4 linked regions of the Homo sapiens genome follow. The protein of the gene in region 3 interacts with the protein of the main gene of each other region in a pairwise test. Each region holds a gene or a part of one and is shown on either strand. Other genes may lie near its edges. The genes, in order: XRCC1, RNF111, TDP1 and SPATA2L.

The links.
Region 1: the proteins of TDP1 (region 3) and XRCC1 interact in binary tests that used the Homo sapiens proteins (3 or more experiments, as listed by UniProt).
Region 2: the proteins of TDP1 (region 3) and RNF111 interact in binary tests that used the Homo sapiens proteins (3 or more experiments, as listed by UniProt).
Region 4: the proteins of TDP1 (region 3) and SPATA2L interact in binary tests that used the Homo sapiens proteins (3 or more experiments, as listed by UniProt).

What each region holds. Positions count from the first base shown.
Region 1 is NC_000019.10:43,558,513-43,565,535, forward strand, and holds part of XRCC1 (DNA repair protein XRCC1), read right to left. Parts: intron 2,509-7,023; coding exon 2,398-2,508; intron 1-2,397. UniProt on the Homo sapiens protein: Scaffold protein involved in DNA single-strand break repair by mediating the assembly of DNA break repair protein complexes. Negatively regulates ADP-ribosyltransferase activity of PARP1 during base-excision repair in order to prevent excessive PARP1 activity.
Region 2 is NC_000015.10:59,025,661-59,032,683, reverse strand, and holds part of RNF111 (E3 ubiquitin-protein ligase Arkadia), read right to left. Parts: intron 1,881-7,023; coding exon of another isoform or gene 1,862-1,880; coding exon 982-1,861; intron 1-981. UniProt on the Homo sapiens protein: E3 ubiquitin-protein ligase. Required for mesoderm patterning during embryonic development. Acts as an enhancer of the transcriptional responses of the SMAD2/SMAD3 effectors, which are activated downstream of BMP.
Region 3 is NC_000014.9:89,979,920-89,986,942, reverse strand, and holds part of TDP1 (tyrosyl-DNA phosphodiesterase 1), read right to left. Parts: intron 6,404-7,023; coding exon 6,311-6,403; exon of another isoform or gene 6,264-6,310; intron 5,481-6,263; exon of another isoform or gene 5,383-5,480; intron 3,830-5,382; exon of another isoform or gene 3,667-3,829; intron 2,428-3,666; coding exon 2,260-2,427; intron 1,812-2,259; coding exon 1,733-1,811; intron 1-1,732. UniProt on the Homo sapiens protein: DNA repair enzyme that can remove a variety of covalent adducts from DNA through hydrolysis of a 3'-phosphodiester bond, giving rise to DNA with a free 3' phosphate.
Region 4 is NC_000016.10:89,698,700-89,706,440, forward strand, and holds the start of SPATA2L (spermatogenesis-associated protein 2-like protein), read right to left. Parts: upstream 3,007-7,741; 5' UTR 2,929-3,006; exon of another isoform or gene 2,792-2,928; intron 2,535-2,791; 5' UTR 2,534-2,534; coding exon 2,231-2,533; intron 1-2,230.

The sequences.
Region 1 (7,023 bases), on a different chromosome or scaffold from region 3:
TAGCTACTTGGGGGGCTGAGGCGGGAGGATCACTTGAGCCCAGGAGGCAGAGGTTGCAGTGAGCTGAGATCATGCCACTGTACTCCAACCTGAGCAACAGAGTGAGACCCCCATCTCAAATAAATAAATAAATAAATAAATAAATACATATATACATAAATAAATAATATGGTTAAAAAAAGAGACAGTTTGGTATTGGCATAAAGAAAACTATACATATCAATGGAACAGAGAAGAGAGTACAGAAATAAACCCATACATATGGTTAATTAATTCTCAACAAGGAGTCAAAATGATTCAATGAGAAAAGGCAAGTCTTTTTTTTTTTTTCAAAGTATTTTCAGCCAGGTGCAGTGGCTCAGGTCTGTAATCCCAATACTTTGGGAGGCCAAGGTGGGAGGATCACTTTAAGCTCAGGAGTTCAAGACCAGCCAGGCAATGTAGTGAAACCCCATTTCTACAAAAAATTTTTTAAAAAATTAGCCGGGTATGGCGGCTCACACCTATAGTCCCAGCTACTCAGGAGGCTGAGGCTGGAGAATCCCTTGAGTCTGGGAAGCGGAGGTTGCAGTGAGCCAAGATCATGCCACTGCACTCCAGCCTGGCCAACAGAGTGAGACTCTGTCTTAAAATAAATAAAATAAATAAATAAGCATTGTCAACAAACATATAAAAAAGATACAGAAAAGGGCCGGGTGCGGTGGCTCACACCTGTAATCCCAGCACTTTGGGAGGCTAAGGTGGGCAGATCACAAGGTCAGGAGATCGAGACCATCCTGGCTAACACAGTGAAACCCTGTCTCTACTAAAAATACAAAAAATTAGCCGGGCATGGTGGCACGTGCCTGTAGTCCCAGCTACTCCGGAGGCTGAGGCAGAATGGCGTGAACCCGGGAGGTGGAGCTTGCAGTGAGCCGAGATCGCGCCACTGCACTCCAGCCTGGGCAACAGAGTGAGACTCCATCTCAAAAAAAAAAAAAAAAAAAAAAAAGATACAGAAAAAATAAACCTTATCCCCTGCTTCACACAATACACAAAAATTCACTTGAGATGAAACAGAGATCTAAATGTAAAATCTAAAAATAGAAAGCTTCTAGAAGAAAACATAGGAGACAGGCAGAATAACAGCTCCTCAAAGATGTTTACATCCTAATCCCTGAACCTGGAAATGTGGCAGAAGGCACTTTGCAGATGTGATGAACTTGAAGATGTTGAAATGGGGGAGATGCCCCTGGATTATCCGGGTAGGCCAAGTGTCATCATAAGGGTCTTTATAAGAAAGGAGGGCTGGGTGTGGTGGCTCATGCCTGTAATCCTAGCACTTTGGGAGGCTGGGGTGGGTGGATCACTTGAGCCCAGGAGTTTGAGACCAGCCTGGGCAACACAGTGAAACCCTCTCTCTATAAAAAATAACAAAAGCTAGCCAGGAGTGGTGGTGTGCACCTGTAGCCCTGGCTACTTGGGAGGCTGAGGTGGGAGAATCACTTGAACCTCAGAGGCAGAAGTTGCAGTGAGCTGAGAACACGCCACTGTACTCCAGCCTGGGCAACGGAAATGAAACCCTGTCTCAAAAAAAAATGAACAAAAGAAAAAGAAGGCCAGGCGCAGTGGCTCACGCCTGTAATCCCAGCACTTTGGGAGGCTGAGGCGGGCAGATGACGAGGTCAGGAGTTCGAGACCAGCCTGGCCAATATGGTGAAACCCCGTCTCTACTAAAAATACAAAAAAAAAAAGTTAGCCGGGCGTGGTGGTGGGCACCTGTAGTCCCAGCAACTCGGGAGGCTGAGGCAGAAGAATAGCTTGAACCCGGGAGGCAGAGGTTGCAAGGAGCTGAGATCGCGCCAGTGCACTCACTCCAGCCTGGGCGACAGAGCGAGACTCCGTCTCAAAAAAAAAAAAAGAAAAAGAAAAAAAGAAGGCAAGAGAGTCAGAGTTGGAGAAGTAACAATGGAAGTGGAAGCAGGCGTTAGAGTGACAGGAGTGCTGGCTTTGATGAAGGAAGGGTCACAAGCTGAGGAGGGCAGATGGACTCTAGAAGCTGAAATAGGCAAGGAAATGGATTCTCCCCTAGAGCCTCCAGAAGGAACAGGGCTCTGCCTACACCTAGATTTTAGCCCAGTGAGAGTGATTTCAGACTTCTGACCTCCAGAACAGTCGAATAATACATTTGTGTCATTTTAAGCCATGATCCAAACTTGCTCTCTTCCCTGATGTGCAGTTTACCGCCCTGTGTCTGCCTTCTGTCTCCTCCGTACACTGGGTGATCCTCCAGAGGGCAGCAATCAGGTGTGACTCACATCTGCCCCATGTCTTCCCAGCCCCAGCCCCTGGGGGAGACGGTGATGCGAGCATGAGGGGCAGAGGTCAGTATGGGATCCATCTCATAGCCCTGCTTACCTCATAGTCTTGCTCCCCAGCGCCTCCAGCTGAACTGCCCACCAGCACCTCCACGAAAGCTGAGCCATCATTCCCAATGTCCACACTGTGTATCTGCTCCTCCTTCTCCAACTGTGGGCAGAGAGAGAGGCCACTGTCAGTGCCTGCTCTGCCTCTGGGCTCACTGTGGGACCTCAGGATGAATCTCCTTTGGATCACCATGTCCCTGTAATGTCAATTCTGTGAGGGGGCACACCAGGGTTGAATGGTGCCATGTGTCCCCTCCATGCAGCACAGGGTATGGCATGGAGCAGAAACTCACAAAATAGTCACTGAATGAATGCATACGCGCCCACCTCACACATACCTGCTTCCCTGACCTCTCCAGACTCCACCAGGTCAGCTTATCACACACTGCCATAGAGCTCTCCTTGATAAGCACTTGCCAGAGTTATAACTTTATTCAAATCATCATGCAGACAAACAGCACATGTCACCCCTCACCCACAATCGCAGAGGACTCCAGGAAACCTCCCTGAGGGCAGGGGCTTTGTCCGATCTTGCTCACCGCTGGTTCCTGGGTTTGAATCCCAGCTGTGCTGCACACTAGCTGTATGACCATACCAGTTAACCTTTTGGAGCCTCAGTTTTCTCATCTGTAAAATGGGAATGACCACCATATCTAGGATCATGCACATAAATAATGGCCACAGGGCATGGCGAAGAGTAGGCAATTATCTGCTGTCAGTCAGGAGGTATTATTAGTCAGTGCTAGACAACTATTTGTTGAAAGAAGAAAAGAGCTACCTATAGGAGGGCTCATCTCAAAGGATCTGCCATTCCTGTCTGACAGATGAAGATGCAGAAAGCCGTGCGGGCCATGCGGGCACGGGAGGCAGTTAGGTTGAGGCAAGTGTCCTGCCTTCCAGTTTGGGGCTCTTTTATTAGGATCCTAGAATGACGCATTATTACAACTCTCAAAGGTACCTGGGCCAGGTGCAGTGGCTCAAGCCTGTAAATCCAGCACTCTGCGAGGCCAAGGCAGTGGACCACTTGAGGCCAGCCTGGCCAACATGGCAAAACCCCTTCTCTACTAAAAATATAAAATATAGCCGGGCATGGTGACACATGCCTGTAGTCCCAGCTCTTCAAGAGGCTGAGGCACAAGAATCTCTTGAACCTAGGAGGCAGAGGTTTCAGTAAGCAGAGATCATGCCACTGCACTCCAGCCTGGGTGACAGAGCGAGACTCTGTCACAAAAAAAAAAAAAAAAAAAACCAAGGTACCTAGTCCACCCTACACTGCCCTCTCCCACCCCTGGTGATGACAGATGCTCCAATCTGCTCTGTTGCCTCCCTGTCAGATCATCTAGACATCACCTGCACACTGCTATCAACAGGAACACCACTGTATGGAAGGAGGGAGCCTGGACTTGGGGTGAGGTAGGCCTGGGCTCAAATACAGCAATGCCATTTCCAACCTGCACAACCTTGGGTGACGTATTCAACGTCTCTGTGAGGCAGTTTCCTCACATGCAAAAAGGGAAGATGGTCATTAACAACCCTCCCTCCTTGGCCAGGCGCAGTGGCTCACGTCTCTATAACCAGCACTTTGGGAGGCTGGGGTGGGAGGATCACTTGAGGCTGGGAGTTCAAGACCAGCCTGGGCAACATAGCCAGACCTTGTCTCTACAAAAATTACAAAAATTAGCAAGGCATGGTGGCACATACCTGTGGTCCCAGCTACTCAGGAGGCTGAGGAAGGAGGATCGCGTGAGCCTGGGGAGGTCAAGGCTGCAGTGAGTCATGTTCGCATCACTGTACTCTGGGCGACAGAGTGATGAGACCTTGTCTTCAAAAAAAAACTTACCCTCCCTCTGAAGGAAGTTGAGATGACACAGAATTAACAACTATAACCACAACTGCGGCCAACATCCGAGTGCACTGAGCGCTCCTGGTGTGCCAGACTCCTGCTAATAATACATGTATCTACTCTCCTGCAATGGCTCTGCCAGGCAGTTGCTATAATTATCTCCATCTTACACATGAGCAAACGGAGGCAGGAAGTGGTTATGTAACTTCACAGCTGGTGGGTGGCAAAGCCGGACCGGAACCCAGGCAGGCTGGCAACAGTCCACGCGTGCTCCTCCATCACACCACTGACGTGCTAGAGGAGGAAGATGGTGCTGGAGGAAGGGCCTGCCTAAGGCTGAGGCCGGCAGACCTCCTGCTGACTCCCCTGCCTCCACCGCCATTCCCAGCCCTGGGCCCTGGGCAGTGTACAGTGCTGCCTGGGCTCATGAGATGTCCCAGTCTGGGCCAGGTGTGGTGGCTCACACCCGTAATACCAGCACTTTGGGAGGCTGAGACAGGTGAATCGCTTGAGGTCAGGAGTTTGAGACTAGCCTGGCCAACATGGTGAAACCCTGTCTCTACTAAAAATATGAAAATTAAAATTAGCCGGGCATGGTGGTGAGCGCCTGTAATCCCAGATACTGGGGAGGCTGAGGCAGGAGAATCACTTGAACCCGGGAGGCAGAGGTTGCAGTGAGCCGAGATTGTGCCACTGCACTCCAGCTTGGGCGATGGAGTGAGACTCTGTCTCAAAAACAACAACAACAACAAAAACAACAATAACAAGAAGTCCCAGTCTGACTGCTCCCCAGGCCAGGCTTGGTGACTTTCCACCAGCCACAACGGCCTCCCTTCTGTGCCAAGAACAGTCTGGCTCCTTCCCACCTCAGGGCCTCTGCACCTGCCAATCCCCCTGCCTAGACCACTCTTCCCTCAAACATATCCATAGCTGGGTAAAAGTTTGCCTTCTGTGCTTCAGGTGCCCACTCAGATGTCACTTCAGACCATAAGTAACCTACCTCGCCCCCTACCTGGTGCCACTCTCTATCTCCCTACCCGACTTTACTTTTCTTCATGATTACTGCCTGGTGTTACACAGTTACATCTTTTTTGTTTGTATTTGTCTAGCATCTGTCTCTCCCGCCAGACTTTTAAGCTCCACAAGAGCAAGGACAGTATCGTCTGAGTTGTTCCCTACTGTGTCCCCAAGGCCAAGAACAGTGTCTGGTCCTTCCCAGCTCTGCTGATTTCCTGCTGTGTGATCCTGGAGCAAATGGTTTCATTTCACCCCTTGTGCCTCAGTTTTCGAACCTATGAAATGGGGACAATAACAACGTCTATCTCATAAAGTTGTTGAGAACATTCAAATCCATACCAAGAATGAGAAATAACATACCAAGTGCCTGGAATACTGCCTGGCACCGAGCAAACACTACATAAATGTCAGCTGCGAATATCATTAACACAGCAGGCCTCTACTGCATTCCCAATGGATGTACAGACAGACGCAGAACAGGCGCCCAGCAACCGTTTGCAGAAGTTACTACTCAAGAGTTATTAAGCAGTAACTCTGGCTCTGTCCTCCCTTACCAAGTGGCCCTGTTGAGCCCCTTCTCTGCTGCTTGCCTGGGTGTCCCATCTGTCACAAGAGGATCATCATGGCTAACATTTTCGGATTCTCACCATGTGCCAGGTGCTTGGTGTATGAGTTTCCTGTTACTGTTGTACAAATTAGCACAAACTTTGTGGCTAAAAACACAAATTTGGCCAGGCGCAGTGGCTCACGCCTGTAATCCCAGAACTTTGGGAGACTGAGGCAGGCGGATCACCTGAGGTAGGGAGTTCGAGACCAGCCTGACCAAAATGCAGAAACTCCGTCTCTACTAAAAATACAAAATTAGCCAGGCGTGGTGGCGCATGCCTGTAATCCCAGCTACTCAGGAGGCTGAGGCAGGAGAATTGCTTAAACCGGGGGGGCGGAGGTTGCAGTGAGCCGAGATCACACCACTGCACTCCAGCCTGGGCAAGAAGAGCGAAACTCCGTCTCAAAAAAACAAAAAAAAAACACACAAATTTAATATCTTACAGATCTGGAGGTCAAAAGTCTGAAACTCGGCCTTACAGGGCTAAAATCTAGATGCGGCAGGGCTGCATTCCTTCCTTCCGGGAGCACTAGAGGAGAACGTGTCTCCTTGCATCTTCGGCTTCTCGAGGCCACCTGCCTTCCTTGGCTCACAGTCCCTTCCTCGTCTTCAAAGCTGCTGAAAGCGCTGGCATCACTCCAGGCTCTGCTTGCATCTTCACAGCTCTGGTTCCAGCTCTCTTGCCTCCCTCTTTCCCTTATAAGGCCTCTGGGGGTTACGTGAGGCCCACCAGATAATCCAGGGCACTCTCCCCATCTCAAGATCCTTAATTTAATCAAACCCACAGAGCTCCTTTGGCCATTAAAATATTTCCAGGTTCTGGGGATGAGGACATGAACATCTTTTGAGCACCACTGTTCTGTCCACCACACTTGGCTAAGCATGGGCCGGGCATCACTGAAGCCTCAAAACCACTTTAAATAGAAGGGTCTGTTACGACTCCAGTTTCACAGATGGGGAAACTGAGGCTCAGACAGGTTTAATCAATAGCTTACATGGCACACAAGCTAATAACTAGCAGAGTACTTCGGACGCAACTGCCTGACTGCAAAGCACTGTCCAATACCACCACTGTTCTCAACTCCTTTCTTTCCATCCCTGAGTCAAACTCAACATCTTTACCTCTCCCACAATATTCAGCATAGCTCCTA
Region 2 (7,023 bases), on a different chromosome or scaffold from region 3:
ATTGAGAGCCCAAGGCAGGTGGATCGCCTGAGCTAAGGAGTTCAAGACCAACCTGGGCAACTTGGCAAAACCCATCTCTACAAAAAATACAAAAATAAGCCAGGTGTGGTGGTGTGGGCCTGTAGTCCCAGCTACTTGAGGCGCTGACGTGGGAGGACGGCTTCAGCCCAGGAGGTGAAGGTTGCAGTGAACCAAGACTGCATCACTATACTCCAGCCTGAGCAACAAAGCCAGATGCTGCCTCAAAAAAACAAAGGAAAAAAAATTAACCAGTCTTTTTTAGTGACTAGAACTGTTCTTACTATGGCTGAATCCATCATACAGGTAGCTGAAAAAGTATTCATAACAGTCAAGCATATTAAAGAAACACAAGGAAAAAAATGTGTACCATAAATGAAGAACATACATAAAATATAATCTAATATGTATAAAATGTAATAAATGAGGCCAGGTACAGTGGCTCATGCCTGTAATCCCATCACTTTGGGAGGCTGAGGTGGGCAGATAATTTGAGATCAGGAGCTCAAGACTAGCCTGTTCAACATAGTGAAACCCCGTCTCCACTAAAAATACAAAAATTAGCTGGGCATGGTGGTGGGCACCTGTAATCCTGGCTACTTGGGAGGCTGACGCAGGAGAATTGCTTGAACCCAGGAGGCGGAGGTTGCAGTGAGCCGAGATTGCGCCACTGCACTCCAGCCTGGGTGACAAAGTGAGACTCTGTTTCAGAAAAAAAAAAGTAATGAAGGGTTATTCTCCCAAAAAACTCTGACTTATTTTTGTCACTAGAAATTTTTTAAATTTTTATCTTAGCATTAGAGTCATGGTTTAATACTGCAATTGGTAATTTATATGACTTAAAAATAAAAGTTAATAGAACCTGATAGTCCCTTTAAATAAAATCAGTAAGACACAAACAAAAAATTAAGCACAAATGCAATGCAATAGGTTCCATGTTTTACTCAGCTTAAACATTTTTACCTGAGGGAACAGCTGGATTGTTTTGGTGGTTTTCACTGGCAGAAACAAACAAATCTTCTTCTCCTTCAGTTGATGAGCTAGAAGAGGATTCACTGCTGAGGTCATTCTCACTGGAACTACTAGAACTAGGTAGCAAGGCATATTTTCTTCGAGCTAACACTTCTCGTTTCTTCCTCTGCATTAATATCCTCTCTTTTTGTTTCTGTGTCCTCTGTGAGGAATTATTTTTTACAAATCTCTTTCTGCATGGAAGTCTCCGTAACGAACTGCCATGTAAACAGGGTCTTTTCATTAACAATCCCGATACAGATTCTGTCTCAGTCCGAGGCCACTTATGAGACCGTGCACTATGGCTTCTACTTTTAGCATTCAAAATGGTCTGGGAATGTCTTACAGAGACTTCTTTATCCTCATCTGAAGTCACAGTATCAGAATCTCCAAAATGCAGACTAGATGAAGGAGAAGAAAGACAATCACTAAAAGAGGAATCATTATCTTCATCACTTGGTGTCCCTAGGTGTTGCCTCAGTCCTAATATTCCCTGGTTTTCTTTAACACAATTCTGCACATACGAAGGGCCAGCCTGCTGGCTTTTGCGTTTTTTCCTCACAACGAGACTTTTTTCTTGTTCTTGCTGGTTACCATTCATTTCCTTCTCTTGCTTTTGAGAATCATCACACAGGTGAGAGAATTCATTCCCCACTTTACTATTAATCATCTCAACTCCTGCAGGAAAACTTTTGGCTGCCCCAATGGGCTCTGGATGCAAAAGGATCCCTTTCAGACTCTCCTGTGTCTTTGGTGCATCAGAAGGAATCTCACTCTTCATATCCACTTTTAAGGTGTAGAGCTCGTTATATTCAGGAGTCCATTGAGACATGGGAAACTTTAAGGAAAGCCTAGAAGACAAAATTAGATATTTAAAAGATTTTTAATGTGTTTTATTATACTATTTAATTGAAGAGTTCTCAAATTCCACCAAGAAGATCCCTTATAAAGGCAGAACTGTCTTTTCCTCATCAGTACACAAAATGTCTGTTATGAATTATTTTACTATTCTTATAAAACGTTTTTCTCTGGTCACTCTACTCATGCATCCAATTTTTAGAAATACAGTAGATATAGAGCATAAGCCTACTTAAAAACTTCTATTAACCAAAAACTGATCTTATTGCATATCTCACTACCTTCAGCAACAAAACATATTTGGTCAAATCAAACAATTACTTCAAAACCTATTTCAGTGAAATATAAATAAAAGGATTCGAATTCAAAAGACTAATTAGTCAACATGTTTTACTCCTGGTATGACATTTTTAAGTGGTTATTATTAAATGTTTCTGTACATCTAGATGGTTACTACATTAGATTGATATTATTAATAATGAGCTAATGAATATAAGCTTCTCTTTTCTATTTTTTTTCCTTCATACTACTCTATTAATTCTCTAATGAGAATCTGAATTCTCCTGATAGTAGACACAACTACTGCATTTCAGTTTTAAATACAAAAAGATTAGAGCCAAGACTGTGGGCTGCTGAAGATCATTCAGTTAAATAAACAATACAGCAGAACATAAAATCAAACTTTGTACAGCTAATCTATCTAAATCATTCAACATCTTAAATTACGAGCTGCCAAAAAGAGATCTGAATTTAAAGCATTTACATCAATGCAATGTACATATGAAAATAATGTAATAGTAAATATCATGACTCAAAATGAAATATATTAATCAGAAAGGCAGTAAATGTGACAAATGAAGAGCTTTACTAGTGCAAAACATGAATAAACAATGTTAACATATTTTTAACAAGTTTTTATTAAGTATAGCATACACACATATTCTAAGTTTATAGATGAATGAACACTAAAAAAATGAACACCTCTATGTAACTGGCACACAGATAAACAACATAACCAGCACCCTAGAAATCTTCTTCCCATTACTACAGCCCACCAAACTGTTAACCACTATTGTAACTTCTGACACCACAGATTTGTTTTGCCCATAAAATACATTTTGAAACCAGTTCCTAAAAAGCGAGTACAACAGCTGTTTAGTAAGCAAGTATTTTCCCTCTCTACAAATGGGTTACAGAAATATATAATCTTACAGGTCTCCCATGTTACTATAGTATATAACTTTACTATCAGAACAAATGACAATAATTAAGGCATAGAATGACCTATTCCTACAGAAAGCTATCAAAACCACTATCTTCTTTTATTCTTATTCACAAGCACAGGCAGTGCTGTATCCAAGATCAGCCATCACGCGCTATCTGTAGTTCAGCAGGATCAGTGATAAACCAGGAATACAAAGATGAGTGAACATGAGCATGGCAATGAGCAAATTACAGAAGGCAGCCAGTCAGACAAGGATCACTTTAATTAAAGGCAAGAACACAGAAGTCACAATGATAAAACACAGGTACATGTGATCTAAGAGTTGAATGGGGCCAAACAGGATGGCTGTAATAAAGAACACAGGTAATAACAAGTGTTAGAGAGGATGCATAAAAAAAAAACATTGGAACCCTCATATATTGCTGATGGAAATGTAAAATGATACAAGCTACTTTGGGAAGCGGTCTAGCAGATCCTCAAAAATTAAATACAAGCTGGGCGCGGTGGCTCATGTCTGTAATCCCACCACTTTGGGAGGCCAAGGCGGGCGGATCACTGGAGGCCAGGAGTTCGAGATCAGCCTGGCCAACATGGTGAAACCCCATCTCTACTAAAAATACAAAAATTAGCCAGGATAGTGGCGCACTGACTGTAATCCCAGCTACTTGGGAGGCTGAAGCATGAGAATCGCTTGAACCTGGGAGGCAGAGGTTACAGTGAGCTGGGACTGCACCGCTACAGTCCAGCTTGAGCAACAGAGCAAGACTCTATCTCAAGAAAAAAAAAAAAATTAAACACAAAATTGCTATGTGACCTAGCATTTCCACTCCTAGGTATGTACCCAAGAGAAATGAAAACACATATTCATAAAAAAACTTATAAACAGCAACATTAGTCATAACAGCCAAAAAAGTGGGAACACAAATGCCAATCAACTGATGAATAAATAAATCCATACAAAAGATTATTACTCAGCAATAGAAAGAAATGAAGTACGGTAGTCCCTCACTATCCAGTTTAACTTTCCACAGCTTCAGTTACTCACACTATGAGAGAGAGACCACATTCACATAAGTTTTATCACAGTATGTTGTTAGAATTTTGCTACTTTATTGTTGTTGTTAGTCTCTTATTCTGCCTAATTTATAAATTAAACTTTATCATAGGCATGTAGGTATATGAAAAAAAAAACACTATATGGTTTCAGGCATCCACTGGGGGACTCAGAATGGTTTCCCCTTGGACAGGGGCGCAGACTACCATACTGACTCAAGCTACAACATGGATAAACAATATGCTAAGTAAAAGAAACCAGTCAAAAAGATAACATAATGTAAGATTCCCTTTATATGGAATGTCTGGAATAGGCAAATCTACATAGATAGAATGTGGTTACCTAGGGCTGGGGATCATCGGAGGATTCAACTATGATGGCCGAAAAGCATGGAGTTTCTGGCCAGGCGCGGTGGCCAAACCCTACACTTTGGGAGGCCGAGGCGGGCAGATCACCTGAGGTCAGGAGTTCGAGGCCAGCCTGGCCAACATGGTGAAACCCCATCTCTACTAAAAATACAAAAAATTATCCGGGCATGGTGGCGTGCACCTGTAATCCCAGCTACTCAGGAGGCTGAGGCAGGAGAATTGCTTGAACCAGGGAGGCAGAGGTTGTAGTGAGCTGAGATCACACCACTGCACTCCAGCTTGGACAACAAGAGTGGGGAAAAAAAAAAAAAAAGGTGGGCCAGGTGCAGTGGCTCACGCCTGTAATCCCACCACTTTGGGAGGCTGAAGCGGGTGGATCACCTGAGGTTAGGAGTTTGAGACCAGCCTGACCAACATGGTGAAAAGAAACCCTGTCTTACTAAAAATACAAAAATTAGCCAGGCATGGTGGCAGGCACCTGTAATCCCAGCTACTCAGGAGGCTGACGCAGCAGAATCGCTTGAACCCAGGAGACATAGGTTGCAGTGAGCCGAGATTGCGCCATTGCACTCCAGCCTGGGCAACAGAGCAAGACTCTGTCTCCCAAAAAAAAAAAGAAAAAAAGGTATAGAATTTCTTTTATTTTCAGTGAACTGAAAATGTTCTACAACTGATTGTGGTGCCAGCTATTCAACTCTGTGAATATACTAAAAACCCAGTGAAATAAAATCTCAATAAAACTCCTGCCAGAAAGTCAAGAGGTTTAAAAAAAGTGAAAAAGTCAAGAGGAAAAGTATCAAGATTTCTAGGCATCAGAGACTCCATCAGCAACAGAAGTCTCATGATGTATGTTGGAAACAGCTGGGGTTCTTCCAGAAACCCATGTCAGAGTTATGTTCTGGTGGATTTCAGAGGAGGAGATCTTGGAGTCTTTATGGGCTGAAGATTTAAAAATTAGACTCCTCATCCGTAATTACTAAGTCCTCATGTTGATAATGGAGATCATGAGAAGCAATGAAAACTTGCCAAAAACCAGACAAATTCTGAGAACATGCAGCCATACATTAATTTACAAAGAAGCAATTCACAGCACAATTAACTAAACCCAATTTCTTTTCCATCATTTCATGTCCCAAAGCCAAAACAATGCAATCAACTCTTTATGGTTAAATCTGCTCTGATTTTTGATCAGTTTAGTCTGTCCAATGAGACAAGGGTAGAGGAGAGCAAGGGGGGGTGGTTTGGTGTATGCTGTGGTGTGTGTTTGTACACCAGTTAACTCTTCTCTGAGTTAACATATCATGCAGTCATTAAATGCAAAATTAATATCCCATATAACTAAGAGGTTCCCACCCAGGGAGTAATTCATACTATTTTTTTTTCTAAAATCCATCGCTGTATTGTATCATGTTCTAAATTTTTTTTTCTAAAATCCATCCCTGTAATTGTATCAGGCTGTATTTTGAACTTAGAAGAGGAAAGTTCAAAAGGAAATAAACACAAGTATTGCATTTAACTTAAAAAGCAGCAAATATAACAGATAATATTCTAAATTATTTGCTGTTTGATAAAACCATATTCTAGTCTTTTATTTTTGTAAAAATTATTGGCTGATCTAATTTACAAAGGAGGCAAATGCGTACAAGATATATCTCCTTGGTGACATTATAAATGGCTTGCTGTTACACACTGTTTCAATACTGAAACCATAATACTAGTCCCTCTTTGTGTAGATCGATCCAATCATTTCATTGCTATGTCATGATGACTGCATGCTAATTACTCCTGATACTAGTGTAGAATACACCACTATTAGTAAACCTTGCACTAAGAAAATACGATAGCTAAAAAAAAATACTAACTTTCAAAACTAAAAATTAGGGTTGGGATTTAGTAATTCACATCATAAACAAGTTTATGTGAGCAAAAGGAGGAAAAACCCATTAAGACTATCCATACAACTCTGAGGAACTCTACTTCTAAACTGTGATACACTATTATTGGTATGATGCTTCACCACCAATTATAAATATGAATACTTGTTTCAACTTTAAATAAAAATGTAATGATTGCTTACATGACTCTAAAGAAATAAGATTTTAAAAGAAAAAAAAAAAGCCGGCCGGGCACAGTGGCTCACGCCTGTAATCCCAGCACTTTGGGCGGCTAAGGCAGGCAGATCACCTGAGGTTGGGAGTTCGAGACCAGCCTGACCAACATGGAAAAAACCCGTCTCCACCAAAAATGCAAAGTTAGCCAGGCGTGGTGGCACATGCCTGTAATCCCAGCTACTCGGGAGGCTGAGGCAGGAGAATCGCTTGAATCCGCAAGGCAGCGGTTGCGGTGAGCCGAGATCGCGCCATTGCACTCCAGCCTGGGAGACAAGAGCAAAATTCCGACACAAAAGAAAAAAGAAAAAAAAAAAGCCATAGATGACTTGGCATTTTTCTACAAAAGTTTTAGAGATTATCAGAAAATCAACTAGAAAT
Region 3 (7,023 bases):
AAATATGTACTGAATGCCTACCTAGAGGGCTGGAGAGAGCAGAAAAATAAACTGTAGCTCATCTGACTGACGTTTTGTTTAATTTAATATGTATTATTTTCCTTAACACAGGTTAGGCATTAATACTTACACATACACTTCCCAAAAAGCCCAAAGTTTCCATGTCCACCTTGGGTACAGCATGGTGTAGGAAACAGAGCTGAACCGACAACTTACAACACCCAGTTTCTACTGCAGTGCTCAGCCCCTGAAGGGCCACCCTATCCTGGACAAGCCTCTGGCTTAGATTTACACTTCAGTGGAAACAGGCACCTAATCACCGGCCGGCCTTCCTGGAAGAAAGCTGTGGTGCAACATGAGCAACTGTGTGTAAAAAGTGGTTTGAAAACTCTTAACATACAGTTGAACTTTCAGTATCAGATGGTGATCACACATAATACGTGCTATTATCTAGCCTATCTAAACCATTAGACATTTGTCCACAAACAACTGTGTATGTGCACTGAAGACTTACTGTGTGCCCTGTACTATTTTACATTCATCATTTCATTTAATCCTCACAATCACGGGAGGGAAGTACTATTATTATGTCCACTTTATAGATGACAACCGATGTATGTTAAGGAACAAGTCGAGGTCACACGGCTTGTAGATAACAAAGCAGGGTTTGAACCCAGCTATGGATATCTGCCTCCAAGACTGGGCACAGGCCAATGTGCTGAACTTCCTCTCTAGGCCAAGACATAAAGATGTCTTCAAGATCTTGCCTGCTTTAAGCTGTGGTCTCATTTCATAAAAGGAAATTAAAATAAAAAGTTTCATTAACCAAGGGAAAATTCTTAGACTTTAAATAGTTTATGGAATAAGAGGTTAAGGCTTTTAAGAAAGCCACTTTAGGGAATTTATTTATTTTTTTGAGACGGAGTCTCGCTCTGTTGCCCAGGTTGGAGTGCAATGGTGTGGTCTCAGCTCACTGCAATCTCCGCCTCCCGGGTTCAAGCGATTCTCCTGCCTCAGCCTCCCGAGTAGCTGGGATTACAGGTGCCTGCCATCATGCCCGGCTAATTTTTGTATTTTTAGTAGAGACAGGGTTTCACCACGTTGGCCAGGCTGGTCTTGAACTCCTAACCTTGTGATCCGCCCCTCTCAGCCTCCCAAAATGCTGGGATTACAGGCGTGAGCCACCACACCTGGCCAGGGAATTTATTAAGGTCAGTAAACCACCTAAAAAGAGATGAAAAAAACTTTAATCTTCAACTTATTTTATGACCTTTCTTCGTGCATTTTCATATCAGCAGCAAGTATTATTTTTGAATTTGTTTTCTTAAGGGCACTGGTTTAATAATCAAAATATATTATAGCTCAGTTGTAGTCTTTACTCAACATTTTCTGTTTGTTGAATTTATATCTTAAAACTTGATATGCTGAACAATCAAAAGCTATAATCAAAGCTACAGTATGTGTATGAATAGGAAGCCTCTATCTTTATTACAATATAAAAACTAGAAAAGGTCTATATATTTATGCCATTAACAGCCTACAGCTATAAAAGAGGCAAAACACATTAAAAAGCAGTAATTACTAAGAATTATAATTATCAATTTATCAAGTATCTATTTGCCCAGAATTGTGCAGAAATATTGTGAAGCTGCATCAAAATATATAATTATTTTAAAAGAGAGAATATACATTAAATTTTTTAAAAATGTTAAAATAGTAAAAGTTCTGTTACCTTCTTAAGTCTAAAATGTCCCCAATTATCTTTTTGACTTCCTTGAAAGCGTCCTGGGGTTGAACCAATAAGATAAACACTAAAAAGACATAAAAACACAAGTTATAAAATATAGTGATGTGCTTTGGGCACCAAAAAAAATGACAAAATACACATGAAAACTAATATAATCAAGAAATGATCTAAGAGCCAATCCATTTTCTTGAATTGACTCTCAAATTCATTTTCAAGCAAATCAACTAATGATGGAATGCCTACAAGATGTAAAGTACCAGACAAAGAACTCAATAATTGTGAGAGTAACCCAGTGGGAGGCTAAGGTAAACATGAGGATTCACTGGCTGTCACTTTAATGCCTGAGAACCACAAGATACAGATGTGATAGAATCTGCTCATCCCCTCATCACATCCTGAAGCTTGGCTAGATTTCACCCCACCTCTTTCCAGGCCCCTGCATGCCAGACCTCATGAGGCTCCCAAGGTATAAGCCTATCATAAGCACCCCAAATTGATAAGCTGACACATACTTTGTTTCAGAGAGATCGTGCTTGTGAATGACATCTATCCACTCCTTGAGAGAAGGGGCATTATAAGCCATCAAGTAACTGATGAGATCAGCTTTAAAATGTGTTGGCGACTCTCCAGATTTGTGGGTTCCATCAGCAATTCGTGGGTATAAGGGGCTCAACCATATTCTGGAATTAAAAAAATAACCTTTAACAGTCAGGCACACAACTGATCATAATGATCTCTGTATCGATTATGCCTTCATCCTAAGAAAGAGGTGAATTCTCGGTATCTCCACATGGTAAGTAATCTTAGGAAACATGAAACATAAATCTGAGAACACCACTCCAATGGTTTCTCATCACATTCAGAATTATTCCTGAATGTCTTGCCATGAATTTAAGATTCAGTAAGACCTGGGCTCTGCCCACCTCTTCCAACCCACATCCCTCCATGCTCCCTCTCACTTGCCAAACCTTCCTTATTGCTCCTCTTACCTCTGCACCTATATATTGCTTTCTAAGACTTGATGACAAGAGTTAAGAATTCTACTCTTAACGGTTAAAGCAAATCCATGCTACTAGTGGTAATCCCAAGCAAGAATTTGCCCTTGTCTGCATCAATGCAGCTCTTCAGCCAAATGTGAAATAAGAATTGTGTTATCTATACCAAAAGTGCATGTGAAAAATCTATTTTCAATTAACAAACCCATTTTCATAACGTAGGTCCTATAGCAGCATATTTTTATGTCTTATACTTTCTGGTGCCTGGATTAAGTATATATCACATTCAGTGACATTACAATAACCTCAAACTTTCAACACTTAATTCACTGAAGAAGCATTACAGACATCTTTCATTTCATTAATTCTTTTTCCCTAGAGGAAAACAATGCTCTTTGCCAAAACTTCTACATTATATCCATAAATAGAAAACAATCATATCTAATCCCAATCCTTCTATAAACTGCTCCACAGTAGATTACTAAAATGGCTTCAAACCTCTTGTGCTTCAGTTTCTTCAAATGCAAAAAAGTGGGGTTAACAAGGCTGCCTCACTGGGCTGTTGCAAAGCAATGACTTACAGGAGCAGTCAAAAGTATCAGGTGTTACTTTTTTCCCCTTCTGTGGCTACTCTCCTTTTCCCCACCCTGGGTTCTATCTATTAAGCTGAAAGAGAAACTGCCCAATTTCTCTTTCACCTGGCAGCCCCTGAAGGAGACTGGCAAGATGCAGGCCACCAGGGCAGAAGGCATCCAGAACTGCAAGGACTCTCGGCCGTACATCTTCTCAACTCTGCAAGTTTCTAGCAAGGGGCATTTCATACCCCTGCTTCCCACCCTGGGGAGACACTTAGCACAGGAGGTAGCATGGTGTGATGAGGGCTGGAGCCCATGTTCTGGACCCAGATCGACTAGCTGACTATACCATTTTGGGTAAGCTCTGTGATCTCTCTGGGCCTTTGCCTCCGTGTGTAAAATGACCAGGTTGGGCTGGACAGACGTGGAGGACCTCCCCTTGCAATAGCACCTCAAAGTTCCCAGGCTGAGTGAGGCTCCTCCTGGATCAGAGATTCACTCACAGGTGAGTTCTGGATGAGAAACAAGACAAATGACTTTCTAAACTAAGATGCTGAGATATGAGGCATTTTTAACACATCACAAAATGAGAAAATTATTATAATGAGCCAAATAATTTTATTTTATTCTTTACTGTGAGCTTTGGATGCAACTCTTGTTCTAATTTTAAAAAGTGAGAAATCAACAGGTGGATCATGAGGCAGCTGAAGGGGATTAGCAGAACCACAGTAGACCAATTATGAAGTGAGATTGTATACAAAAACTGCTTTCAAAAGTTTTAAAATTACCACAAATAACATGAAATGCAAAACATTAGAGAGTAGAATATAGGCCAAGCATGAAATAATAGGATCCCACACCAGGATGGCTGCCAGAGGAAGATTTCATAGTCTTGGTACTTTCTGAGTTTTGAACCGTTCCTACCTAGTCAATAAGTTTTCCAAAATTTTAAATTAAAAAATACTTTTTTTAAATAAAAGAAACACCCAAGCCCTTATCCCTGCCTCTTCCCTCCTGGCAACCACCCCAGAGAATCCCAAGACAGTACTACTGCCTGTAAGCTAAGCTTCCAACTTCAGAAGGAGCTGGAGGCCCAGGGTGGGATTCTTGGAACCACGTGAGGCTGAGAGCTAACCTGAGAAATCCCTTTAGTAACATTGTTTCATGAGAACAAGCTACATTAATCTCATTGCCTTTTGATAGGGCCACATGAATCCCCAAACCCAATCTGGCAGCTCAGGAGAACTGGCTTAGAAGCTCTTGGGGTACCAAAGGCATAGTTAACCATAAATTCAGTAGATCAAGAAAGTGCTACAGCTGAGACTTAGAGACCAAGCAGCTATCCCCTCAACCCTGGACCAGTCAGAGCCACACTTCATTTTGAAAAGCATATTTTCAGTGGGATACTGAAAAATTATAACATGTTTATAGAAAAGCGACCAGGAATTACAGCTAGGGGTCTCAAAGCCACATGCTATGGTGGGGCAAGGGAGTGGGGAGGGAACAAGAGATGTAAGGCTCAGAAACAAGACTCCCTTTCAAACTCTGAAGGACTGCTTTAAGGGAGGGAGATTACATTTGTCCTGCGCAGTGCACTCAGGTTGAAGCAAGACCTGTTGAAGGAAACTGGAAAGCTATTTCAGCTCAAACTAAGATGTAACTTGGGGCCAGGCACGGTGGTTCATGCCTGTAATCTCAGCACTTTGGGAGGCTGAGGCAGGCGGATCACTTGGCAACTAGGCAAAACCTTGTCTCTACAAAAAATAAAGACAGTTAGCCAAGTGTGGTGGTACGTGCCTGCAGTCCCAGTTACCCAGAAGGCTGAGGTGGGAGGATCACCTGAGCCCAGGAGGTTGAGGTTAAAGTGAGCCGTGATCGCATCACAGCATTGTAACCTGGGTGACAGAGTGAGACCGTCTCAAAAAAACAAACAAAACAAAGATGTAACCTGGGCTCAGCAGAGCTTAGCTGAAAGTAATACACTCCAAATTAGGAGTTCTAGCCCAAGCTAGGCAATGATATGGGGCAGGGTGAGGCAGAGGAGGATGACAGAGAAAACGTGAACCTGGAAATGGTGCTAGACAAACGTCCGAGTTTCTCCCAACACAGAAGGCTGTTTGTTAACCAGCTCTTCTCTAGCACAGGCAGAGATGTACAAAATGGCTTAAACAAAAGAAAATTAAAGTTAGTCATAATCAAGAACAATAGCTGAACTTGTTGAGCAAATCCCTAAAGCTCCCTTTTAAAAAGCAAACCCCTCTTGAAAAGGGGATCAAAACCTGGATCTAGCATATGTGCACCAAGTACAGAGGGTTAGTAGTTTAAAAAGTTCATAAAAGCTTTCGTATTCAGTTCTTCTCTTGGAGATTCACAACTTTATTAACACACTAAAGGCTCTAAAAAGACACCAGCTTAAATTTGTTTCAAAGAAAATACACCAACTGGGGGAGTGGGGAAATATTTAGCACACTATTAACATGACCAGGCCCTACCCCAACTTTTCCTTTGATTCCTGTTTGGGAAGTGGTAAGCAAAAATACAGGTGGGTACATGAGTAAGGAGAAATCACAAAAGCTATCTGGTAAATCCTACTAGGAAAACAATAGGTTCAGATCTTTCATTCTGTAACCCCTTTTCTGCCTCAGATCTCTGCATGTGCTGTGCCCTCTACTTAGCTGTAGAGTGTATATGATGCCACTTCTCTAAAAACTAGGAAGAGACTACTGTGTGTAAATAGTAATGTATGTTTACATGTACAGCAGAGGTAGCTGTGGATGATGATGCTCCTGTTAACACTGGTTACCCCAAGAAGGTAGAATGGGGCAGGTAGTAAAAGAATACAGTAACTTTTTCTGCATACAACTCTTTTTCTAGGCCATGTGTGTTATTTTTACAACTTAAAAAAAAAATAGAAAAAAGAATAAAGTGAATGTTCTGGCTTTTGACCTTTATCAACACACACACTGCCAGGAAGTGAGCAGGCCCCTACGAACCCTTGAGTTTTCTGGTGCCAGTCAGCATGGATGAGGTTGGAGGTGTGTATGACAACCCGGAGGCCTTCTTCATAGAGCAGCAGCATCATTTTCCTTTAAAAACAGCAAAGGATCAAAAAGCATTAATAGTACTTTCAAAATATGTAATACCTTTCCAATGCAAATGTAATACATAGCTAAAGGAATTTTTTTAAACTCTCATATTACCCAAACTTAACATTTATAATCTTCCCTTCTATACATTACCATGATGAAAGTCTGCCTAAGTGATAGGATGAAAACCTTTCAGAAAGGTTGAGTATTTGGTGGTAAAAGAACTTTCAACCCTAGTGCCAGTCCTGGCACTTCACATCCCTCCAGCCTGGCCCCTTATTATCTATTCAGCATTACCTGTTACTACTAGGGACCGTTGGAACCTTCTGGTCTGGTGTTTGAGATTCAAAGTATGGTCAACAACCTCTTGCTGCATCATGGCTGGCATTTTTTAAACAACTAAAATAGCATAAATTGGTATACTGTATATATTTAATTACTGGTTCATGAAATTTTGTTTTGGCACAAAGGTATGTTAGTGCACAATACACTGAAATGTAAAGTGTATTTCTTATTATGAGTTGAAATTTTAAGAAGTTTAAAAGATGCTTCATTACCATTAGTGGTTTTTTGTATCCATAGATGCCACACTTGTCAAAAGTGTGTTATCTGGGCTTGGG
Region 4 (7,741 bases), on a different chromosome or scaffold from region 3:
TGGTCTCAAACTCCTGACCTCAAGTGATCCGCCTGCCTTGAGCTCCCAAAGTGCTGGGATTACAAGCGTGAGCCACTGTGCCCGGCCTAGAATTTTTTTTTTTTTTTCTTTTTTGAGACAGAGTCTCGCTCTGTCTGGAGTACAGTGGCACGATCTCGGCTCACTACAACCTCCTCCTCCCGGGTTCAAGCGATCTTCCTGCCTCAGCCTCCTGAGTAGCTGGGATTACAGGTGCGCACCACCACGCCCCACTAATTTTTGTATATTTAGTAGAGACGGGGTTTCACCATGTTGACCAGGAAGGTCTTGATCCCTTGACCTCATGATCCACCCACCTTGGCCTCCCGAAGTGCTGGGATTACAGGTGTGAGCCACCGCACCTGGCCGAATTTCTTAAATTTAATGGAAAAAACAATGAATACATTAACCTAGCTCACAAATCAGAACAAAATGAAGAGCCCCTGTACTGAGAAATTCCACTGTCTTCTGTCCCACCGCTCCCTTCACCCCTGGAGATGGCCTCATCTAATTAGTTTTGAATGTACTTGCCCAGGTGTTTGTTTTGCAAACCCAAATACAGATTTCGTTTGCTCCTCGTATGAGGTAGTCCCCCCTTTTTTTTCACCTCTTTGTAAGGTCTCTAACCAAAGCTAGACAGGTAGCCTCTTAAACGTGTTGTTCTGAACTTTGTTTTTTTCCACTACAGTCTTGCAGACAAGGACAGAAGCTGTAACGTTCATTCCCCCTGCTGTGTAGTATTCCACCATGGGGGTGACACGTCTGTTTTCAGCGCTCTCCAGAGGCTGTCCATGCACTGGGCTGACAGCCGTGGGACGGTAGAAGGGTGAGTGCTCTTTTTTTTTTTTTTTTGAGACGGAGTCTCACTCTGTCACCAGGATGGAGTGCAGTGGCTCGATCTCTGCTCACTACAACCTCCACCTCCCAGGTTCAAGTGATTCTCCTCCCTCAGCCTCCTGAGTAGCTGGGATTACAGGCGCGTGCCACCACACCCAGCTCATTTTTGTATTTTTTAATAGAGACGGGGTTTCACCATGTTGGTTAGGCTGGTGTCAATCTCCTGACCTCGTGATCTGCCCACCTCGGCCTCCCAAAGAGCTGGGATTACAGGCGTGAGCCACCGCGCCCGGCCTGGCTGAGTGCTTTCTAGCCTACACTTAGGTGAAGAACTAAAGGAGCTCAGGACAATCACTGCGAGCGTCTCCTGACTCTCAAATTCCCTAACTCCGGGACTCCTAGCATCTAATGCCTGGACACGGCCCACGTGTGGAGCGCCCAGTGCCTGCAGCACTGAGCTCGGGGCTTTGATTCATTCCTCTGGCCCCATGAACTGGACTGTTCCCGTGTCGCTGTCTCAGGAGGAAAGGGGCTGACAGAGATTAGCTAATTTGGCCAAGTCCTCGCGGCCAGGAAGCAGCAGAACTAAGTCCAAACCAGGGCTGTCCGGCACTGAAGCCGGTTATTCCCCCGCCCCGCCCCCTGGGAGGCCTCAAGGGCGGGCCTGTCCGTCCTCTCTCATGAATGAAAGTCCTGGCGCCTCCGACCAGCAGGTGTCCCCGGGGAGCCGCGGAGAGACTGCCGCTGCCATGGCAACCGGCGGAGGCGTAGCTCGCCCACGTGCCCAGTGACGTCATCGGCTTCCTACTCTTCCGAATTAGCTCAGAGCTCCCGGCGGCCCTGCCCCCTCCTGCCGCCAGGAGCTCACCTGGAGAGGCCAGGCCAGCCCTGGGCACAGCCTCCCGCCCCAGGCCGTGGAGTTCACTAGGTCTGAGCCCAGCCCTGAGACTTCACAGGGATGCACCCATCTGCAGTCCTCCCAGCCTCGGCGGCCTCCTCTGCAAATGGGATTGGCCCATAACCTGGAGGAATTAGGATGACCATGGGAACTCAAGTCCCTTCTGTGCCCCCGTCCTAAGATTTCCATGGCAACTGGGGCCGCGAGGCCTCTTAGGGAAGACACTGACGCAAGCTCTCAGGGCAGGACCCCGTAGGCAGCACCCAAGCCTGCCCTCGCCCACCCCATGTTCTCAGCCCTAGGAGTGGGTGCCCCCACACGCCCACGACCCCTCAGCGCTCGGAGCCTTGAGGAGCCCACCAGGCACTGAGGACACTTGAAGCCCCTCTCTCTCGAAAGGCGTGGTCCCCCATGGTCGGCGGCCCCGCGACCCGCAGGCCAGGACGAGGGGCGCGCTCCTCCTGGCCTGGCGCCTACCTTGATGGTGGTGAACTCCTTCCTCCAGGGCAGCAGGTACAGGTGCACCGCGGCGAGCTCCAGAAGCTCGAAGGCGCGAGCCAGGCCGCGTAGCGCGGGCGCCAGGTCGGCGCGGCCCCACAGCCCGTCGGTGAGCAGAGCCAGCGCGTCGTCCTGCAGCGCCCCGTGCAGGTCGAAGTCCTCCACCAGGATCTGCCAGAGCACCGCGCGCAGCGAGGGGTCCCCGCACACGCCCGCGCGGCCCCGTCGCAGCTCGCGCTCCAGGCACTGGCGGTAGTCCTCGGACAGCGAGCTGCTGCCCATCCTGCGGCGGACGGGGGTCGGGGGGGTCAGGGACCTAAGGCCGCGCCCAGCCCGCCGCGCTCTCCCCGAACCCTCACCCAGCGTCCCCAGGACCCCTCGAGCCTGGAGACCCCGCCCCCAGCGGCTGGGCGCCCCCGGTATCTTCGGCACCCCCTACGCTGGAGACCTCGGCCCCATCAGCTGCCCGCCCACCCAGCGATCCAGGCCCCTCCAGTTGAGCGCCCCCGCACCTCCAGCCCCTCCCTCCAGCCTGGGTACCTCGGCCTTCCAGGGGCGCCCCCGGTTATCGACCGCACCCTTCTCTAGAGACGCGCTTCCGCCCGCTGAGCCCTCTCCCGACCAGAGCCCCTTCGCCCGGCAGATGGAGCTGCGGATCCCGCGGGTGACGGCGCTACCTGTCTGTCCCCAGCGGTCTCCGGCCGCCGCGGATCAGTTCGGGCCTCCCCGCGCGCCGCGCGCTTCCGCCGGGAGTCGGCTCCGCCCGGGGTCCGCGGCCGTGACGCTGGGGGCGGGGCGGGGCTTGGCGCAGGCCCCGCCTCCGAATAATTTAGGAGGGGCGGGGCCTGGTGAAAGGGGAGGAGGAGGTGTCAGCCCGGCCGAGCCCCTGCGCGAGGCACCCCGAGAGCCTCCTGTCACCGCGTCGCCCGTCTCCTCGCGGGACCGGTATCGTTCACGACGCCGCTGGGCCGAGGGCTGCGGGCTCATGGCAGGCGCTCAGGGAACGTTGTGCCTGGGCCGCTCCTCCCCACGAGACAGGGACCCAGCCCCAGGCGACCCGGCCGCGGGGAAGCAGGTGCGCGGGCTCGTCCCCTGGGGGGTGGGGCCACCGGCATTACCTGGCGGGGATTGGCTGGATCCTGGGAAGAGCCTTTCCTGCGGGGCGGGGCCACCTGCATTACCTGGCGGGGATTGGCCGGATCCGGGGGCGGGCCTCCCCTGTGGGGCGGGGCCATCCCCTTGAGGGAGGGGCCCGCGGCACGGAAGGTGGGCGGAAGGACAAGCCTTTCAGCCTCGTCTGAAACAGCAGCCTCAGGTGGATGCGGGGACCTCAGATTCTGTTTATGCTGGCTCCGCTTCCCGGCCTCCTGCACTTGCCATCTGCAGCCCTTGAGAGCATCGTCTGGGCGGGTCTCTGAGGCAGGGCGAAGCCGCCCCCCTCTCTAGGCTAAAAGCTGACCTGGGCTGCGGATCCACCCAGGCTAAATCTGGGCCACGACTTCCCGGGGACGTTTTCTTCGCTCGGGTTCCTCTGTTCTGTGCTACAGCCACTTTCTCGCATTGCCCAGAAGTAGAGGAGGATGAGGGAGACCCTTGGAGGTCCCAGCCGAAACCCACCCCTACCCCACACCCCCGCTTTGGGCAGGCTTTGCTACTTCACGTCTGTGTCCCTCATCTCTCCAGGCCACCAAAACCAAGGCCCAAGTTTGTTGAAACTTTCCCTGGGCCTGGGCGGCGAGGTCCCCCCTTTTTCTTAGATTTTTTACCTGGAAGTTCCCTGCTGGCATCTTAGAAATAGTGATCATGACCGGGTGCGGTGGCTCACGCCTGTAATCCCAGCACTTTGAGAGGCCGAGGCGGGCGGATCACCTGAAGTCAGGAGTTCAAGACCAGCCTGGCCAACATGGTGAAACCCCGTCTCTATTAAAAATACGAAAGTTAGCCGGGCGTGGTGGCACATGTCTGTAAGCCCAGCTACTTGGGAGGCTGAGGCAGGAGAATTACTTGAACCTGGGAGGCAGAGGTTGCGGTTGCAGTGAGCTAAGATCGTGCCACTGCACTCCAGCCTGGGTGACAGAGCGAGAATGTCTGGAAAAAAAAATCGTGATGCAGTCGGTGGATCTCCCTGAGTTATCTAGGTGGCCACCTCTGGACAGGGAGCTCTTTTACTTACTGTTTACTGAACTCACTCTTGGTGCCCAGTGCCACCATGGGTCCACACCAGTCCTCAGGACAGCTAACTTCGTAAGTCTCATCTTTATTCTTCTTCTGATGCGGAGGAGGGTGGAGGTAACTGTTCTGCCTTTGTCCTCACTGAATTTGGCAACACCAGTCCATCCATCCAGCAGTGGGCCTAGCTCTCCTCCCATAGGCCTGGGTGGGTTTTTGCACCTGCCTCAACCCATGGAATAGAACTGATGTGGAATGAATTCCAAGGCTAAATCATAAACATGCCATACCCTGGCCTTGTCTTGAGATCCTTGGCCTCTGACATGGTTTGGTTCTGTATCCACACCCAAAATCTCATCTTGAATTGTAATCCCACAGGTCTGGAGCAGGACCAGGTGGAGATAATTAAATCTTGGGGGCAGCTTCCTCCATGCTGTTCTCGTGATAGTGAATTCCACGAGATCCGATGGTTTTATAAGGGGTTCTCCCCTTTGTTCAGTGCTCATTCTCGCTCCTGTCGCCCTGTGAGGAGACGCCTTCTGCCATGATTGTGAGTTTGCTGAGGCCTTCCCCAGCCATGCGGAACTGTGAGTCAATTAAACGTCTTTTCTTTATAAATTATCCAGCCTCAGGCAGCTATTTACAGCAGCATGGGGACGGACTAACACACCCTCAGAACCCAGCCACTAGAGTGAGAAGGCCACGGCCGTGTGCAGAGCTTTTGGCCTGCAACTTCGACCTGCGACTCACATTCACCTGCAGCCTATTCTTGGGACTTTTTTGGAAATAGTTTTTCCAGACAAAAATCAAGATGAGTTTGTTCTGGGCCGAGCGCAGTGGCTCACGCCTGTAATCCCAGCACTCTGGAAGACCGAGGCAGGTGGATCACGAACTCAGGAGATCGAGACCATCCTGGCTAACACACTGAAACCCCATCTCTACTAAAAAATACAAAAAATTAGCTGGGCGTGGTGGCGGGCATCTGTAGTCCCAGCTACTCGGGAGACTGAGGCAGGAGAATGGCGTCAACCCAGGAGGCGGAGCTTGCAGTGAGCCGGGATCGCGCCACTGCACTCCAGCCTGGGCCACAGAGCAAGACTCTATCTCAAAAAAAAAAAAAAAAAAAGGATGAGGTTGTTCTGGGTTGGCATGGGCCCTCAATCCAGTATGACTGCTGTCCTTATGAGGAGAGAGAAACTTAGATATGAACGCACAGGAGAGAAGACCGCTTAAAGACGGAGGCAGAGTGGAACGAGGGTGCCGTGAGCGAAGGTAACACAGCTGTGTTAGAGCCACCAGAAACTGGAGGCAAACAGAATTCTACCCTAAAGCCTCCAGAGGGAGTCAGCCCTGCTGACAGCTTGATTTTGACTTCAGGCCTGCAAGATGGTGAGAGAGAACATTTCTGTTGCTGTAAGCCACCCATTTTGTGGTCGTTTTGGCAGCCCCTGGCAACACATCCAGTCCTCACGTCGTCGTTCCGACAGCCCTGAATGAGGTCCCAGCCGACAGCTGGCACCAACCATAGACAGCAGACAGCTCTTCGGATGAATCCAACCCCTGGTCATTGGGTTACCACCTAGAAACAGCCTCCCATGATGCTGAGGAGCCATCTGGCTGATTTTTGTACTTTTTGTATTTTCAGCAGAGACAGGGCTTCACTATGTTGGCCAGGCTGGTCTCAAACTCCTGACCTCAGGTGATCCACCTACCTCGGCCTCCCACAGTGCTGGGATTGCAGGCGTGAGCCACGGTGCCCAGCCTAATTTTTAACTTTTTAGTAGAGAGGGGGGCCTTACTATGTTGCCCAGGCTGGTCTCAAACTCCTGGGCTCAAGTGATCCCCCCGCCTCAGCCTTCCGAAGTGCTGGGATTCCAGGTGTGAACCACCATGCCTGGCGTCTTGAGTATTTAAGCCCCTGAGTTGGGGTAGTTTGTTAGGCAGCGGTGGCTACGTGGGCTGTACACATTCACGGCTCCCTCCCTTCCTGCCCGGGGATGGACACTCCATGAGCTGCCGTGTGGATTCTCCGTCCTTCCCTGCCCTCCCGGGACAGACACTCCATTGCCTCCACTGCATATACATCCTCTAAAACCGGCAGCAGCCTTGCCAGGTCGGAGGTTCCGTCCACACTTACCTGGACTCCAGGACTGCACCTGGTCCCCTGGGGCCACTGCCGTGTCCACCCCACAGTGTGCGTGAGCTCCCTCCCCCTCCTGTACTCAGCATCGTCCAGCTTCCTCATCTTCTCCGGTCCAATGGATATAAGGTTACATCTTGTTTACTTTTCATTTGATTTTTGTTATGATTTGGACACTGCTTATGCAGAATAGTTTTATTTTTATTTTTTTTTAGATGGAGTCTCGCTCTGTGCTCAGGCTGGAGTACAATGGCGTGATCTCGGCTCACTGCAGCCTCTGCCTCTCAGGTTCAAACAATTCTCCGGCCTCAGCCTCCTGAGTAACTGGGACTACCGCCACCACGCTCAGCTAATTTATGTATTTTTAGTAGAGACGGGGTTTCGCCATGTTGGCCGGGCTGGTCTCGAACTCCTGACCTCAAAAGAGCCGTCCGCCTCGGCTTCCCAAACCGCTGGGGTTACAGGCATGAGCCACTGCGCCCAGCCATTACTTTTTATTTTATTTTTATTTTTTGAGACGGAGTTTCTCTCTGTCGTCCAGGCTGGAGTGCAGTGGCACGATCTCAGCTCACTGCAACCTCTGCCTCTCAGGTTCACGCCATTCTCCCGCCTCAGCCTCCCGAGTAGCTGGGACTACAGGTGCGGGCCACCACGCCCGGCTGATTTTTTGTATTTTTAGTAGAGACGGGGTTTCACCGTGTTAGCCAGGATGGTCTTGATCTCCTGACCTCGTGATCCGCCCACCTCGGCCTCCCAAAGTGCTGGGATTACAGGCGTGAGCCACCGCGCCCGGCCATTTGTAGGATTTCTAAAAGGAAGCTGCTATTATTCATTCCTGTCTTATGGGGGAGCTGCAGGCTCAGCGAGGGCAAAGCTGCACAGCAAACAGCAGCACTTGAACATGTCTGCCGGGTCTCAGCGCCAGGGATACAGCTGAGCCAGGACGTTCCCGGCCCCCACAGTGTGCAGGCTGCAGGTGTGGCCCCGATGCCAAGCCAGCAGGGGCTCCCACGCCAGGATTTGTTCAAGACACAGCTCATCTCCACCATTCTATGAAGCGGACTTTAAAATCCCATCTTCTAGACACCAACGCTGAGGCCGGAGCAGCCCAAGCTCCAAGGCACCGTGGCCAGCTGGGGTTCGTATCGAGGGCTGGGGCAGATGCTCCAGCTCTGCCCCAC